Regions from separate parts of the Homo sapiens genome. Here region 2 is linked to region 1. The links come from fine-mapping of genetic effects on gene expression. Tissue or cell type: testis. Region 1 holds a variant in brackets; the other region holds the start of a gene. All regions are shown on one strand. Distances are between the middles of the regions.

The links. PIP is the estimated chance that this variant, and not a neighbour inherited with it, causes the effect.
Region 2: it holds the start of TBC1D15, and the variant in region 1 is fine-mapped to the expression of TBC1D15 in testis (GTEx, PIP 0.97).

Annotation. Positions count from the first base shown.
Region 1 is chr12:71,910,193-71,918,301 of GRCh38, reverse strand. TBC1D15 (TBC1 domain family member 15) reads right to left here. Exons shown (of 17, transcript NM_001146213.3): 12 at 4,376-4,476; 13 at 505-604. Among named protein-coding and RNA genes, the nearest start is that of TPH2, 25 kb to the left of the region's middle. The variant T/C (reference allele first, on the strand shown) is at 4,466.
Region 2 is chr12:71,836,260-71,844,346 of GRCh38, reverse strand. TBC1D15 (TBC1 domain family member 15) reads right to left here and starts at 4,588. Exons shown (of 17, transcript NM_001146213.3): 1 at 4,536-4,588. The coding sequence starts at 4,565.

The sequences.
Region 1 (8,109 bases):
AGGCTGACTTCTTTTTAAAAACTAACAAATAATACATTTTACGAATCAAGTTTAAGGCAGAATTATACAAAGAGAGTTTGGTTCCACATTTTTATGGAACCGAAGAAAGTGCAATAGAGTATATATGTCTTTAAGTTCTTTTTTATTGAGACAGTGTCTTGCTATGTCACCCAGGTCGGAGTGCAGTGGAGTGATCCCAGTTCACTGTAGCCTCAACCTCCTCGGCTCAAGTAATCCTCCCACCTCAGCCTCTTGAGTGGCTGGGACTACAGGCATGCATCACCACAGCCAGCATTTTTTTTTCCTTGTAGAGATGGGGTCTCACTGTGCTAGCCAGGCTAGTCTCAAACTCCTGGGTGCAAGTAATCCTCCCTCCTTGGCTTCCAAAGTGCTGGGATTATAGGCATGAGCCACTGCACCTGGCTTCTTTAAAGAGTTCTTTACATTTTTTTCTATGCATTACTCTACAATTTGCTGGGTATAGTTCTGATTCACTAAACTTACCTAAGTAACTGCAAAATCCACTGTCTAACAATCGAAGTAAGGTACTCAGCTGAATTAGCTGGGTCTTCATGCCTTGCATTTGTTCTTCAAAATTCTGATGCTTTAAAAGGAAATAATTGTTACAAGTAATATTTAATAAATATTTTATAGTACATAATGACTGATAACTAAAACATGATGTCTAAGGACAAATGCTGAACTTATACCACACTGGTAATCTTAAAAAATGCGTAACTAACCAAAAATCTAACGTAACACTAAAAGGGAGGGTAAAGAGAAAGAATCCTTGCTCTCAAAACTAAGGATTATTTTTTCCTCTATTCATTTGACTTAGATAAAGAAGAATGCAGACATAGCAACTGCAGACTGACTATTTATTTCTTACACAGCATAAAAGACTTGGTGAAAGAAACACACATTTGGGAAATAAATATTTATCAAATTCTTTCCATTGTTAAATATTCCTTCAAATTATACATAATAAAATTAATTTTAGTTTTAGTATGTATTTCATTTTAAAGAATTACTTTACATTGGAGAATCTGTAAAGCCAAAACCATTTTCAGGACAATACTAAAACATTATCTGGATTTCATACTTAAATTCTTTCACAAGTGCAAAGGCTGTATGATGTGTGATACTCCAAAAGACTGAACACAGAAGCAAATATGAAAATTCAGCTGTCTTCTATTAAACCAGACATTTTTAAAAATGAAAAATTTAAAACAATCTCTTGTGTCGGTAAATTTTTCATTAGGAAAGGTTACTTTTCATTAAAAAAAAGTGATCTATGTTAAGGTAGAATGTGTTGTTATTTAATGAATTAATAAATAAATGAATACAAGTTTCTCAGTATTAATTTTTCACATAAACATCAACAGATATAACCCACATAAACAAAAACTCTTTCAGGTCTTCAATAATATTGGAGAGTGTGAAGGGGCCCTGAGGTCACAAAGTTTGGGAACTGCTGGGGTTCATATGCTTTAAAGAAACTTCATAGTTGAGTAGACTCCCTACCAACACCTGAGTCAAGGGGCCAGAAGGCACCAAAACTGATGCTCTGAAAGGCTTCTTAAATGATTTGGATCCCTTTAACTCATATGTCCCGATCCCTCTGTGGTAACCTACCGCCCTAACCCTAGTGAAAGCCTTAGAAAAACATTTCCTCCTTCACACTTACTTTTTCACTTTTACAGTACAATAGTGCTTTATTAGAACTATCATATTAGAAACAATTCATTCTTAAAAAAAATTTAAGTCTATTAATTCTCAATAAGCTGTTTCTCTTTAATGAATTTTAAAAACCAGTTTATTAATAGACTAACTCAAGGCTTTAGGATATAGTTCCTCCACATTTACCAGAGAGATCTATAGAGAAGGGGCAGAATCAACTCTGATTAACAGGATCATTTTTGCTGTGACACAGTCAAAGACTAGAGCTGATCTGGGAATACCAACATGGCATAGACATTTGCTACCCACTCTGCTGTAAAAAAGAAACATGTCCATAATGACAGACACCATATTCGAAAAAGTGGTTACTCCTGGAGAAGGGAGAGTGGGATCAACAATGGATATACAAAGGGCTTCAAATGTGTCTGTAAATAAATGTGTCTGTATGGGGCAGGGGAGGGGGAGATGGAGAGGAGAAAGGAATTAAAACTATATGGCAAAATGGATGATGGGTATAACAAAGTTCATCAGATCACTTGTACTTTGTATTTCCATGATAATAGACAAAGTCTATGCCTAGACCTACATTAGATGCAAGTAAACATCAACAAAAGTAAATTTACAGACGTTAGGTTCAGCCACCACAAAGGTAGTACAAACTTACATGAAGTAAAGCTATAAAACAGAAACACAGAATCAAGAAACAGCAGCACAGATTTAGGGACATCAAACAAGGGCAATGCAGTGAAAAACAATCATACAGGTTATTTTGATTGCCATATATTTCCCTCTCATTCAAATATTATGAAAGAAAAGATGTTAGCAGACAACATAATCATAAGATATCTTTTTTAGAATAAAGACTAGAAAAATCCCCAGAACATCCTTAATGGAAAAGGCAAACACAGAGAGCATTTACTGTGAAAATGACAGAACAAAGAAACTGAACCTTCATACACAAAAAATGACGGACTGTAAAGTGTTTATTACACATGTTCAGAAGGTAGTCTTTACATATGAGACCTATATACACACGTCTGTATGCATGTGTGTATGTGGCATTATATGTCAATATATATTTACATGCCAATATTGGATTAGTTTTATTGAAAACTTATTGCATGATACTAAATGCAGTATGTTCATCTTAGTTGTGTTTTTTTTTTTTTTTTTAGAATATCTACTATAGCAATTTAAACTAATCACTGGGGAAAGATTCACATGTTTATTCTACAAAAACCCGTTGAACAACCTCATGTCAGGCATTAGGAAAATTCTGGTATGCTACCAGTGAAACAAGATATAATCCCTTTTATCAAGGAACATACTAGCTCTGGTGAAAAGAGGATAAACAACAAAAACACAAGGAAGGCAGACAACAGTTTTTATGTAATTAGTATCAGCTGTACAGACCTTTATAACAAATGCCTCAGGTTTCTAGAGCACTTGGGAGTAAATGGAACTAAGAAGGTAGACAAATCAATCAAAAAAGGAAGGAAGACAAACTATGACATTACCAAATTACTGCATTGATAATCCTTCCAAATAGTCAAAAAAAATTAATTTATGGCAAAAAACCAATTTGAATATTCATGAATTTAATGTAAAAGAACATTTTAAATCTATCAAATCTTACCAAGTATACATTTAGAAAAAAACTGAAAGAAGCAAAAACAAGTTGAATCTATGGACAAGAGATTTGGGGAAATAGCCACAAGCAGGGAAAATTTGAAGGAGAAAGAAAAATAGGCAAGCAAAAGGGAAAGAATAGAAGTAAAGAAAAAAGGAGAAGGGTACCACTTCCAAATTTCACATTTGTATCCCAGAAACTCTGAGTTAAACCCTGTATTACAGGAAAATATTTCAGATGGTTAGATTCAAAATGTTTATCCCTTGCAAGCAAGCCAGCCATTTCAATATCCAACATAAAGGCCCAGCATCCAGTATGTTAGTGTTATTTTGAAAAAACACAGCAACCTCTATGTAGTCAGGTCTTTGGACTTCATCTGCCTTTATCTAGTCTCACCCCTTCTGCTTTTATTTTTCTGAGATTGCTTGAAGAGACTTTTCTTTTATTTTCCTGTCAATATTCTCTGCACTATTATCCTAGAACTCTGTCTCAAAGATTTAACAATGATAATAGATAAAATGTTCTTTGTACTAACATGTATATATAGACAGTTCAATTCTAATAATCACATACTTCTGGGAAAATAACAATGAATTCCTAAGAAAGTGTCAGAGTTACAAATAGTTCAAACACATCTGGAGAAAAATCAGTTACTATAATGACAAAATTCAAAATCTTCACAAAAGGTAAGGATATTACTTGGCATGACTAAGCTTTATCTCTGAAACAGATGATATTAAAGTTCAACTATTCCACAAAATTGAATTCATCTATTTTATCAATATTCTGTAATGACACATGGCTCTTTAGTAGAAAATAAGCATTTACTGATATTAAATCCTGATTATTCCTATACTACAGGCACAAACTATTTCCTGTATTAAAAATACCACCAGTATTTCTAAGCCCTTGAAAGGCTACTAAAAAGAAAAAGTAACAAAAGGCATGAGGTAATTTTTTTAAGTTCCATCATAGTTGGCTAAATATAAAAATCAACCTTATACTATAAAATTATACAACTAAAATTTTAAAAATCAGTTTAATGGAAGGAATCTCTGTTCTTACCATTTGGTCCATGTAAGAGGCAAAGCACCAAAAGGCATCCACTTCATTTTCCATCACATATAAAAGAGGGGAAAGTAAATCACTCATTCC[T/C]TGAACATATCCTAAAAAGAAAAGAAAAAATCATCTCTGAAAACCCAAGTTTTATGTAACCTTCTGCAAGTTGTGCATATCACCACCATTTCGCTTAAAATTGTATCTTTCTCCTTTGCATTTAGAAATTGGTAGACACTGATGTTCACCAAGAAAAGAATATAAATGAAGAGGAGGAACTCTAGTCATAAGTAAGAAAGATGAGTTGTTTTAGATTGAGATGTCAAACAATATATAGCTTCCAGTACGTGTCTCAGTGCAGATACACTATCAAGAGTGGGTAATATTTTTAAAAATAATGTGCAAGAGCATCATGAGAAAGAAGAGGGGTGAAGAGATAATCCAGAGGAACATCAAATGTAAGAGTATACACTCAAAGACAGGTTTAAGAAAGACCAGTCAGAGAAGTAAAGAAAAAAATCAAGCGAGAATAATGTTGCAAAAATTAACAAGAAAGTTGCAAGCCCAGAGTGGTTAGCAATGCCAAACTACCATGAGTAAGCCACATAAAACAAGAACTTTGGGTTCAACTGCTTTAACAATCAGACCTTTAGATTCACATAACAGGAGTTACAAAATTAAGAGCCTCTTTTAAATAGTCATATCTACGTCCTTCTTTCTTTTTTTGTTACTCTCTACACCCAACCAATGCCAGCAACTGGGCTTAACCCAATCAATATTTTGTACCTAAAGTGACCACTTACCTACATGTCTCTTGATATTATTACAATTTCTCAATGGTGACAGTAATAGAGCCCTTGATTAAAAGAAAAACTAGAAAATTAAGGAGTCAGATCCCTCACTTAAAAATAAGAAAAAGTGTTAGTTTTACTTTTTCACCTGAACATGTCAAACTTCTTTTTTACTTCCTCTTATAAAACCCTCAATTATCCTTGTTTTACAATTTTCAAGACTTGAAAAATTTTCAGACTTAAGAGGTTCTTGAACCAATGAAGGGACACGAACTTATACTAAGCCTTTTTACTTAAACGTTATCATTCAACTTCGGTAACTTTTGTGTATTTATTAAAATCATGTAGAAATTTCTTTATTGGTAGCTTGGGAAGTCTGGAAAATAGTCTTTCATTTGCGAATCCAAAGTTTACATTTTTATTCACCAAAATCTATCTGCACTGAAGCCATGTAAAAGTAAATATTTAATGAAAGAGGGAGGAGATAGTTCTGCTATCATATAAATGATACATAATTACACATTACTCTGTTTTGGAGGAAAACTTTAAAAAATGATCTCAGAAAGCAGGTAAACTAAATCTCTTGAGAAAACTCAGATCAAACACACAACAGACAGAAGCACTCAGATCACCTCAGAATCTCCTTACAAATAAAGTTTCAGCTCAATTTGCTGTGAGCCTCTGTCCAATCATCTTACCACCACATCTTTCCACAGTCCTGTTAACCTCACTCTGTCTACACTGCACCCTGTGGGAAAATATAGCTCTACTCAATTTAGCATAAAAGGGCACGTGGGTTCTCATGGAGGACATCCAATTATTACAGTACCAGACAATGAAGTTACCAAGACATTTAGAGAAAAAAGCTAGACAAAAGTGACATACAACAAGGTATCTAAATTTACACAGATGGTTTCTAAAATAATGCACACTTTTAAAAAAAGAATAAGATAGATGGAAGACTAAATTGTTATCATCAGAACTTTCCTACCTGACACAGTGAAATCAATGACAAAAAATAAAGGCTAAACCAATTAAAGCATGAAGGAAATCTAATCTGAATTCAACAAAGTGCAAGAGTACTACGTTACTGAGCCTGACTGTGTATGATCTACATCAGAAATATTTCAAAGTGTGCTATTCAAAAGATTTACAAAGCACCCTTCCTCTCTTAAAAAGTGCTTTATTATTAAGTTATAATGAATAAAAATTCCTAAGAAGCCAATTTAATCCTTTAAGTCTTCAGCTTTCTTATGGAATCACTACATATTTCTTCTGTTAAGTCTTAGCTGAAGCAAGTTGTCAAATTAATCTTCATGTTCTGGTTGCCTTTAATCTATTTTATTTTTTTTATTTTTACAGTTTTTTTAAATTATACTTTAAGTTTTAGGGTACATGTGCACAATGTGCAGGTTAGTTACATATGTATACATGTGCCATGCTGGTGTGCTGCACCCATTAATTCATCATTTAGCATTAGGTATATCTCCTAATGCTATCCCTCCCCCCTCCCCCCACCCCACAACAGTCCCCAGAGTGTGATGTTCCCCTTCCTGTGTCCATGTGTTCTCATTGTTCAATTCCCACCTATAAGTGAGAACATGCGGTGTTTGGTTTTTTGTCCTTGCGATAGTTTACTGAGAATGATGATTTCCAGTTTCATCCATGTCCCTACAAAGGACATGAACTCATCATTTTTTATGGCTGCATAGTATTCCATGGTGTATATGTGCCACATTTTCTTAATCCAGTCTATCATTATTGGACATTTGGATTGGTTCCAAGTCTTTGCTATTGTGAATAGTGCCACAATAAACATACGTGTGCATGTGTCTTTATGGCAGCATGATTTATAGTCCTTTGGGTATATACCCAGTAATGGGATGGCTGGGTCAAATGGTATTTCTAGTTCTAGATGCCTGAGGAATCGCCACACTGACTTCCACAATGGTTGAACTAGTTTACAGTCCCACCAACAGTGTAAAAGTGTTCCTATTTCTCCACATCCTCTCCAGCATCTGTTGTTTCCTGACTTTTTAGTGATTGCCATTCTAACTGGTGTGAGATGGTATCTCACTGTGGTTTTGATTTGCATTTCTCTGATGGCCAGTGATGGTGAGCATTTTTTCGTGTGTTTTTTGGCTGCATAAATGTCTTCTTTTGAGAAGTGTCTGTTCATGTCCTTCGCCCACTTTTTGATGGGGTTGTTTGTTTTTTCTTGTAAATTTGTTCAAATTCATTGTAGATTCTGGATATCAGCCCTTTGTCAGATGAGTAGGTTGTGAAAACCTTCTCCCATTTTGTAGGTTACCTGTTCACTCTGATGGTAGTTTCCTTTGCTGTGCAGAAGCTCTTTAGTTTAATTAGATCCCATTTGTCAGTTTTGGCTTTTGTTGCCATTGCTTTTGGTGTTTTAGACATGAAGTCCTTGCCCATGCCTATGTCCTGAATGGTAAGCATTCTTATACACCAATAACAGACAAACAGAGAGCCAAATCATGAGTGAACTCCCATTCACAATTGCTTCAAAGAGAATAAAATACTTAGGAATCCAACTTACAAGGGATGTGAAGGACCTCTTCAAGGAGAACTACAAACCACTGCTCAATGAAATAAAAGAGGATATAAACAAATGGAAGAACATTCCATGCTCATGGGTAGGAAGAATCAATATCGTGAAAATGGTCATACTGCCCAAGTTAATTTATAGATTCAATGCCATCCCCATCAAGCTACCAATGACTTTCTTCACAGAATTGGAAAAAACTACTTTAAAGTTCATATGGAACCAAAAAAGAGCCTGCATTGCCAAGTCAATCCTAAGCCAAAAGAACAAAGCTGGAGGCATCACACTACCTGATTTCAAACTATACTACAAGGCTACAGTAACCAAAACAGCATGGTACTGGTACCAAAACAGAGATATAGATCAATGGAACAGAACAGAGCCCT
Region 2 (8,087 bases), 74 kb after region 1:
AAACAGAGACCAGATCAGATCATAAAGGGCTGCATAAGCCATGCTAAAGAATTTAGGAGTTTGAAATTTATCCTGAAGACAGACAAACGCAACTAGAAATTTGCCTTTTCTAAGCCAATAAAGTGGCTGCAGGGCCAAGAACGAACAGCTGCAGTAATCCAGAGAGGGAGAGACTCATGGTTGCTTGAACTAAGGCAATGGTAGTGGGGATGAGGAAAGGCAGATGGCTTAGAAAGATATTTAGAAGATCAAAATGACAAGACTTCATGACTGATTAGATGTGAGAGGTGAAGGGGAGAACAGTCAAGGACAAAACTGTGTAGATGAGGTTATTTACTGAGAGGGAGAACAGAAAGAAGAAAGCTGAGTTTTATTTGGGATGTGTTAATGAGTAATGACTATGGAACTAAAAAAAATGCACAATACAGGTGGTTGTAAGGGCAATACATCACAGATAGTCTGAAGTGAAGAATGTTTTGAGATATAGAGAATGGTACAACTCTCAAGGAAGAGCAACTGGCAGAACTATTATTGCTTCTCAAGGATATTGGTGTGCCAAGCGAAGTCAGATAGGAGACGTGAATAATTTAAGAGTTGGAGGAGATACACAGTCAGCGCTGCAATGAACCATGATCACACCACTGCACTCCAGCCTGGGTGACAGAGCAAGACTGTCCCAAAAATAAATTAACAATAATAATAATAATAATACAAGTCTGTGTTTAACCACCCTTGTATCCAAAGAACTCAGCACATAGGAGGTACTAAAACGTTTGTTGAACTAAAGAATGCCAGAAAAATTTAAAAATAAGACATACTCCTATTATACCCTAGTTAACTACCATGTTAAAAGATCCAGTCTAGGAAAACAAGTCTCCAGGAAAATCTAGATACTAAGAATATTCATCTTTCTAAAGCACAAAAATTTTATAGGACTATGAGCATATTTAAAAAGAATTGGTTAGGGCCAATTTTAAGCTACAAAATAAATTGTTACTAAAAATGACATCACAAATTCTAATTAAGAAAAAAAAACAGCTGATTTCCCTATTGTTTCAAGTAATTTTCTTTTTCATTTTTTGAAACACAGTATGCCCTTCGCCCAGTCTGAACAAGTGGCACAATCTCAGCTCACTGCACTGGTTTCAAGCGATTCTCCTGCCTTAGCCTCCTGAGTACCTGGGACTACAGGCGTGTACCACCATGCCCGGCTTTTGTATTTTTAGTAAAGACAGAGTTTCACCATGCTGGCCAGGCTGGTCTCAAACTCCCGACCTCAAGTAATCCACCCACCTCAGCCTCCCAAAGTGATGATTACAAGCATGAGCCACCGTGCCCGGCCAGTAATTTTCAATAGAAAGAAATTCTAATACACTAACAGGAAAACCTAGAGTGAATGAAGTGTACTACAATAGGATTTTACAACTCTGAAACAAAAGAGCTATTAATGGACCCATTTCTCCCACTCTAATCCCTCCTCATTTTCTTTTTCTTTTCTTTTTTTTTTTTTTTTTTTGAGACAGGGTCTTGGTCTGTCACCCAAGCTGGAGTGCAGTAGCACCATCATAGCTCACTGCAGCCTCCAAGTCCCAGGCTCAGGCAATCTTCCCACCTCAGCCTCCCAAGTAGCTGGGACAACAGGCACATGTCACCACAACTAGCTAATTTTTTTATTTTTCATAGAGACAGGGTCTAGTTATGTTGCCCAAGCTGGTCTTGAACTCCTGAGCTCAAGTGATCCTCCCACCTCAGCCTCCCAAAGTGCTGGGATTACAGGCCTGAGCCACGGCACCTGGTTCCTCATTTTCTCATACCTTCTTGCTTCTTCCTCTTCACTGAATACCTATTATGTGCCAGAATCTATGTTAGGGGCAGATGAAACATTTCAGGATCTGACCTCATGATGATTAGTTCAGTCTACAGTTTCTAATATATTTACTCATTAATCCTCATACCAAGAATAAAGTAGGTACTGTTATCATATCACAGATGAGGATACTGAAGCACAGAGAGGTTAAGTAATTTTACTGAAGTCGCTTGTAAATGTGTGGAGATAATTTCTGAAACTAGTTTGGTTTCAGAGACCAAGCTCTTAACCATTACCTTTTGCTGCTTCCCTACAAGACAGAGATTAACTTCCTCCATCACTTTCCGAAACTCCAAGTTCAAAGCAAGTAGAGTTTTAAGAAAAGTTACATCCTAGGTGGAGACACTGAGAGACTCTAATTCAACAGAGCTGGTAGCCCACCATCTGTACTTTTATTAAAAAGTATCACGAGTGATTTTTGTGAGCCTTGGTTAACATTCACTCCCCTGGATTTCTAAACTAGAACTCTTAGCTAAAACTTGAAGGGAGAGGGGAGATGAATAAATAAACACACACACACATTTTCTCCCCATCCCCTTTCCTAAAGAAAAAAGATTAGGAAGTAGGGAAGCATAAAGGTATCATGTCTTTTTATGTTACATTAACCAGCTTTCATTATTATTATTATTATGCTGACGATAAAAAAGTGAAGAGTTTTCATTTGCTTTTTAAATCAAGAGATTATCAGGTTTGCGCATTAGAAAAATAACTCCAGTGGTGGTGTAGAGAAGATTAAGGGCAGAGACTGTAGAAAAGGAGTAAAATCAGCCAAGAAATCAAGAATAGAAGCAGACTAAAAGCCTGAACTATGCGCTGATAGTAAAGAAGATGCAGTAAATTTAAGAAACCTCTTAAGGTAAAACTGGTAGGACATGGTTATTGATTAGAGAGTGTTATAGGAATGAATGCCTCCAAGTATGTTTAACATGCAACCAGGTGAAAGATGATGCCATTAAACCAGATCTGAACTTACTGAGAGAAGAACAAGTGGGTTTTGTTGGTCATGATAGTATTACTTGGGAGAGGAGCAGCTTTTGGCATGGAAAACTAGTTTCAGTGGAGTGATGGCAATAGATGTGAATTTGCAGTGAATGAGAATAAATGAGGTTATGAAGCAGAATTACTAAATATAAGTCTCACTTTAAGAAGTCAGACTATGAAAGGTAGTGGCTGCAAAGAGTGAAAAATGTTTTTCATTTCACAACTCTGCTTCATTGCCTCAAGGATTCTTTCAAAATCAATCCAAACCTGAAAGAGGGAGATGTTTAAACGGAAGGGATCCCCTCTTGAAAAGTCCCAGCCTGGATCAGTTTAGATGGAAAATCAAACAGGATAATCTTCAAATACGCAGTAAGTCAAGCAGTATATCAGCATCCACCCTGAATATAAAAAGAAAAAAACTGACAAGACAACCAAGGAGCACGAATAATCCAAAAAAGGATGCCCACCTATCCTTTAAAAGAGCCAGTAGGTACAAGTGTGTAATTTTATGTTTTTTTAAAAAAAAATTTATATAACCCTAACAACTCCAATACAAGAAATAATGATTGGCATCTCCTCCATTCTACAGATAAAGAACGCGAAAAGACAAAAGTCACAATTGCCCAATTTTCCAAGGTCATACTTCAGATTAACAGCAAAACCAAGCCCATATTTGTCATTCAGCCGCCTAGTCTAATACTCCAAACACCAAACCACAAACGCTGTCAAATAATTCAAAATGGGGTAGGGAAAGCAACAGGGAGACATGAGTGAAACTCAAGGAACAGAGGACGCTATCTGCAATGAGTAAACAACCATTAGTGTTCGATGAGTCACTTCAGTTGATTCCAGCTGTTTATGAAATACTCCTGCACTGGGAAATACTATCGGTGGCATATCATAAAGCTGATAGCCCTAACTATGCATAAGATGTGCCCTCGGAACGCGAATAGGCACTATTCGACGAAATCTCCGCACGTAATTCTAGTTTCCAACGAAATTAGGCGTGTCACTGACCACCTCCGTAAACCAGCATGACCAATACTCCTACTGAAATGCCTAGGAAATAAATATTTGGACGCCTTCCTAGACAAGCACAGGATGGTGTAAATCTCCATTTCTCTCAGGAAACACGTCCTGCTGCTCACAACCACCAACCAACTCAGCAGCTTGGTAAAAACAGACCCAATACACTCGTTTCTTCTAAGCGCACAGCTAGCTGCCTAGCATCTATTCAGCTCCTCCCGAAGGAAGCATAAACATCTTCACCAAACTGTAGCAAAGAAGACAGAGGCAAGTCGGGTTAACGCTTCAAAGAGAGAAAAGACGCTGGAGTCAGAAGAGTAGACATAAAGAACTAGAGTCAAGAAACAGTGAATCGGGGGAAAAAAGGAACTAGAGAGCCACCTGTCCCTTAGTAAAGGTAATACGAATAAAAGCCTCTCTGCTCTGGGGCAGAAGAGCGCCGAGGCCTAGCTGGCCTTGGAGCAGTAGCCGGCTCTATAACTCCGCGGCTGAACTGGCATTCTCGGGAAACCAGCTGGTACCACCCAGTCTTCTCCTACAGACGCCACGGGTTGTCCGGACACAGAAAGTCCCTCGTGTCCCTCCCCCAACCAGCTGCCAGGGAGCAAAAGCATCCCCGTCCCAGAGAAAAGCCGAGGTCTTCCTGGAGGCCGTTACCTACCTTCCCGCTCACAACACCCGCCGCCGCCATGTTTCCTGCGCGTGCCTGGTAATGACGTAGCAGAACCTCACGTGTCTCTCGGACATACAACAACATCCGGCAAAACTAGAATAACATCCGGGCGGGAAAAGGGCGGGGAGTGGCGGGAAGGGAGTGGAGGAAAGGAGCCGGGCGGAAAAAAGCCGCCTGACGCGTGCGTGCTGAACTGGGCTCAGAGACGGCTGGGGTGGAGTCTCAGGCCTAACGCTACGCTTGTGCTTGCCCCACGTCCTCCCCAAGGAAGACTGCTAAAATAATGTGTACCTTACTTGTATTGGAGTTTGTCGAGACTCTGAAGCTAGCGCAGGCCACGCCAGTTTGGTGAGATGAAACGAATACCATACTGGAAGCCAGCAAGATTTGTCCTGGTTTTTTGTTGTTGTTGTAGAAAAGGAGTCTCGCTCTGTCGCTCAGGCTGGAGTGCAGTGGCGCGATCTCGGCTCATTGCAGCCTCCGCCACTCGGTTCAAGCGATTCTCAAGCCTCAGCCTCCCGGGTAGCTGGGATTACAGGCGCGCGTCAAACGCCCAGCTAATTTTTAAATTTTTATTAGAGACGAGATTTCGCCAATGTTGCCCAGGCTGGTCTCGAACTCCTGACTTCAGGTGATCCGTCCGCTTCAGCCTTTGCCCAGAGAGCTGGGATTACAGGCTTGAGCCACCGCGCCCAGCCCATTAGCCTGGTTTTGTGGCAGTAGGCAAATCACCAGTGCACTCGAAACCTCAGTTTCTTATAGTAAAATCAAGATAGTGGCGTTGCGGTGAAGATCCAAGAAAGAGCAGCACTAACATGGAGATATCCCAGGCACTATACATGGAGACTTTTCCCCTCTGTATATGAGGTTTCTCTATTTGTCTGGTCACTGCCACTCACACATGACCTCCAGCAAGGTATTTCGATAGGAACTGTGATAATACCACGCCCTCATAGCTGCAGAGCCCAAGGCACATAGTTTATAGCACCTACACATTACTTATTAGCTCTGTGACTTAAAGCAGGTTTCTAAATTTATCAGAGCTTCAGGATGTAAACTGGGAATTACTCCTGCATGGAGTGGTTGTAGGGATTTCATACGACAATACATGTGTGGTAAAATGATTTGTAAAGATACTAAGGTAAGAATTTTACTTGTTCTCAGTGCTGTAAAAGAATGCAGAGAATGATTATATACTACCCCCTTGATAACTCTGGCACAGATCTGGGATTTCCCTAGCTCCGGGGCAGAATAAAAAGTCCCTTTCACCAAAAACACTTGTGTCCATTGAGGTACTTCCGTCTTCACACAGTGGAGAGGGGTTAGAGGCTTTTGAGTTTGGTTGAGGTAGGTGGCAACTAGCTGAACGACAGAAAAGGAGAGTTGCCGGTTATGTGACTACCAGGAACCTAATAGGTGAGGAAAGTGGTGGAACCTTAGGTGGGAATGAATGCGTAGCATATTAGGGAGATTGCGTGCTAGGTATCTGAGATTCCAACCATGACCAAGACCCTTATGCCCAAGCTTGGCAGGGAATCAAGAAAGCAGCTCACCTACAAGGGATGAATGAGGTGGGAAAATGAGAATATTAGCAGTAATCAGCATTGAGTGAAGACTAGAGGGCCTTTTCCAAATGTACTGGACTGAGACTAAGACCCCTAGAACCTTCATATAATCTTGGGTGTGGAGTGGAAAATCCTACTGATGACCCAAATTACATTTTCCACCAGCTCAGAGCATTGGGATGTGGTTAGAGAAAAATTTTAATGTGACATCACATTTCTTACACCCTGTGTTTTAGAGAAAATTTGAAGCCCTTAGCACAGTGCCAGGAATAAAAGGCTCAATAAATGTAGTTATTACTTATATTTTAAAATATAAGTTTGAGAACTACAGGCTTCTCATTGAAAAGCATCATTGGCATCTCAGGTTCATCTGCTACTTCTTGACCTTCTTAAATTTCATCCTACAAGTGTGCCTTAAATAATGGCGCTACCCATGGGCTGGCCTTGGGCCTCTCTTCCTTTTTCTCCAAACACTATTCCTGGGCCGTTATCCTCATATTCTGGCATCAAAATCTCCTATGTACTGATGACTCCCAAATATTCCCAGCCCAAGTCTCTCTTTCCTAAACTCTAGTCCCTGTGTCCACTGCCACTGGACTTCTGACTTGAGTGAGCTAATCATACATCAAAAAAGTATAAGCCTTTACTACTCAAAGTGTATGTGTACAGACCAGCAGCACCAGCATCAGTTGAAAGCTTGTTAGAAATGCAGAATCTAACTGGGCACGGTGGCTCATGCGTGTAATCCCAGCACTTTGGGAGGCCAAGGCAAGCGGATTACTTGAGGCCAGCAGTTCAAGACCAGCCTGGCCAACATGGTAAAACCCTGTCTCTTCTAAAAATACAAAAATTAGCCTGGCGTGTTGGTGCATGCCTGTAGTCCCAGCTGCTCAGGAGGCTGAGCCAGGAGAATCACTTGAACCTGGGAGGCAGAGGTGGAGGTTGCCGTGAGCCAAGATCATGCCACTGCACTCCACCCTGGGCAACAGAGCTAGACTCTGTCAAAAAAGAAAAGAAAAGCAAAGCAGAATCTCAGATCCCATCCCAGAACTACAGAAAAATCTGCATTTTAACAAAAGCCCTGATTTGTGTGTACATTAAACTTTGAGATGCATAGTCTTAAGTGAAACTTTATTTTGCTTTTGTTCTCTGAAAATTAGTACACTTTGCTGAACAAGAGATGTAGCTAGAACAGTTTCTCAAGGAAGTGTTGCTATCATGTGTTACAAATTAATTTGAATCAATTCTCCCATTTAGGAATGGCACAGTTATACATTAATAGAGGAAATAGACCTATTTTCCTTCTTCAATGATATCCTCTGTCTATATGCAAAGGGAAAAAACAAGGTCAGGATTTCAGAAGGGGTTAGTTTCAGGTTTTAATTTTTTACTTTATTAGAGGGAATGATCAGAGTACACTTACATATAGCAAGTGGACAGATTGTTTTAAAGCAGTAGGAGATATGAGATTTAAAGCATATGAGATTTAATGTAAATAAAGTCCTTAAGTTCCCTATAAATTAATGTTTTCATGACAGTAATTTCAGAGCTCCTAGATTCACTCCTATAAACTATATAGTCACTCACTAATTATAATTTATTACTGGCAAAGTTACATAATGCAAAAGAATCTTAATAGTAAATGCCATAAAGAAACCTTAGGCCTAGGGAGGACTTTGAAGATAATCTCCCCAAGTTTTTCAAGTGAAGAAATTGAATGTCTTAGAGTAATACCTTGCAGAAGTCACAAGCTGCTTCATGGCTGAATAGAGACTTCATTCCATATACATGTCTTATTTAGCTGTGCTACATTATCAGCTAAAAGTGATTATTCCTATTTCTGAACTACAGCATTTAATTACTGTTCACTTTGATTCTCTTTCACCTCAGTTTCTGGCTGGCCTATTTGTCTTTTGAGCTTATCCCATGTCCCACTTCATCTATTAAGTTTTCCCCAGCGTTTCCACTAATTGAT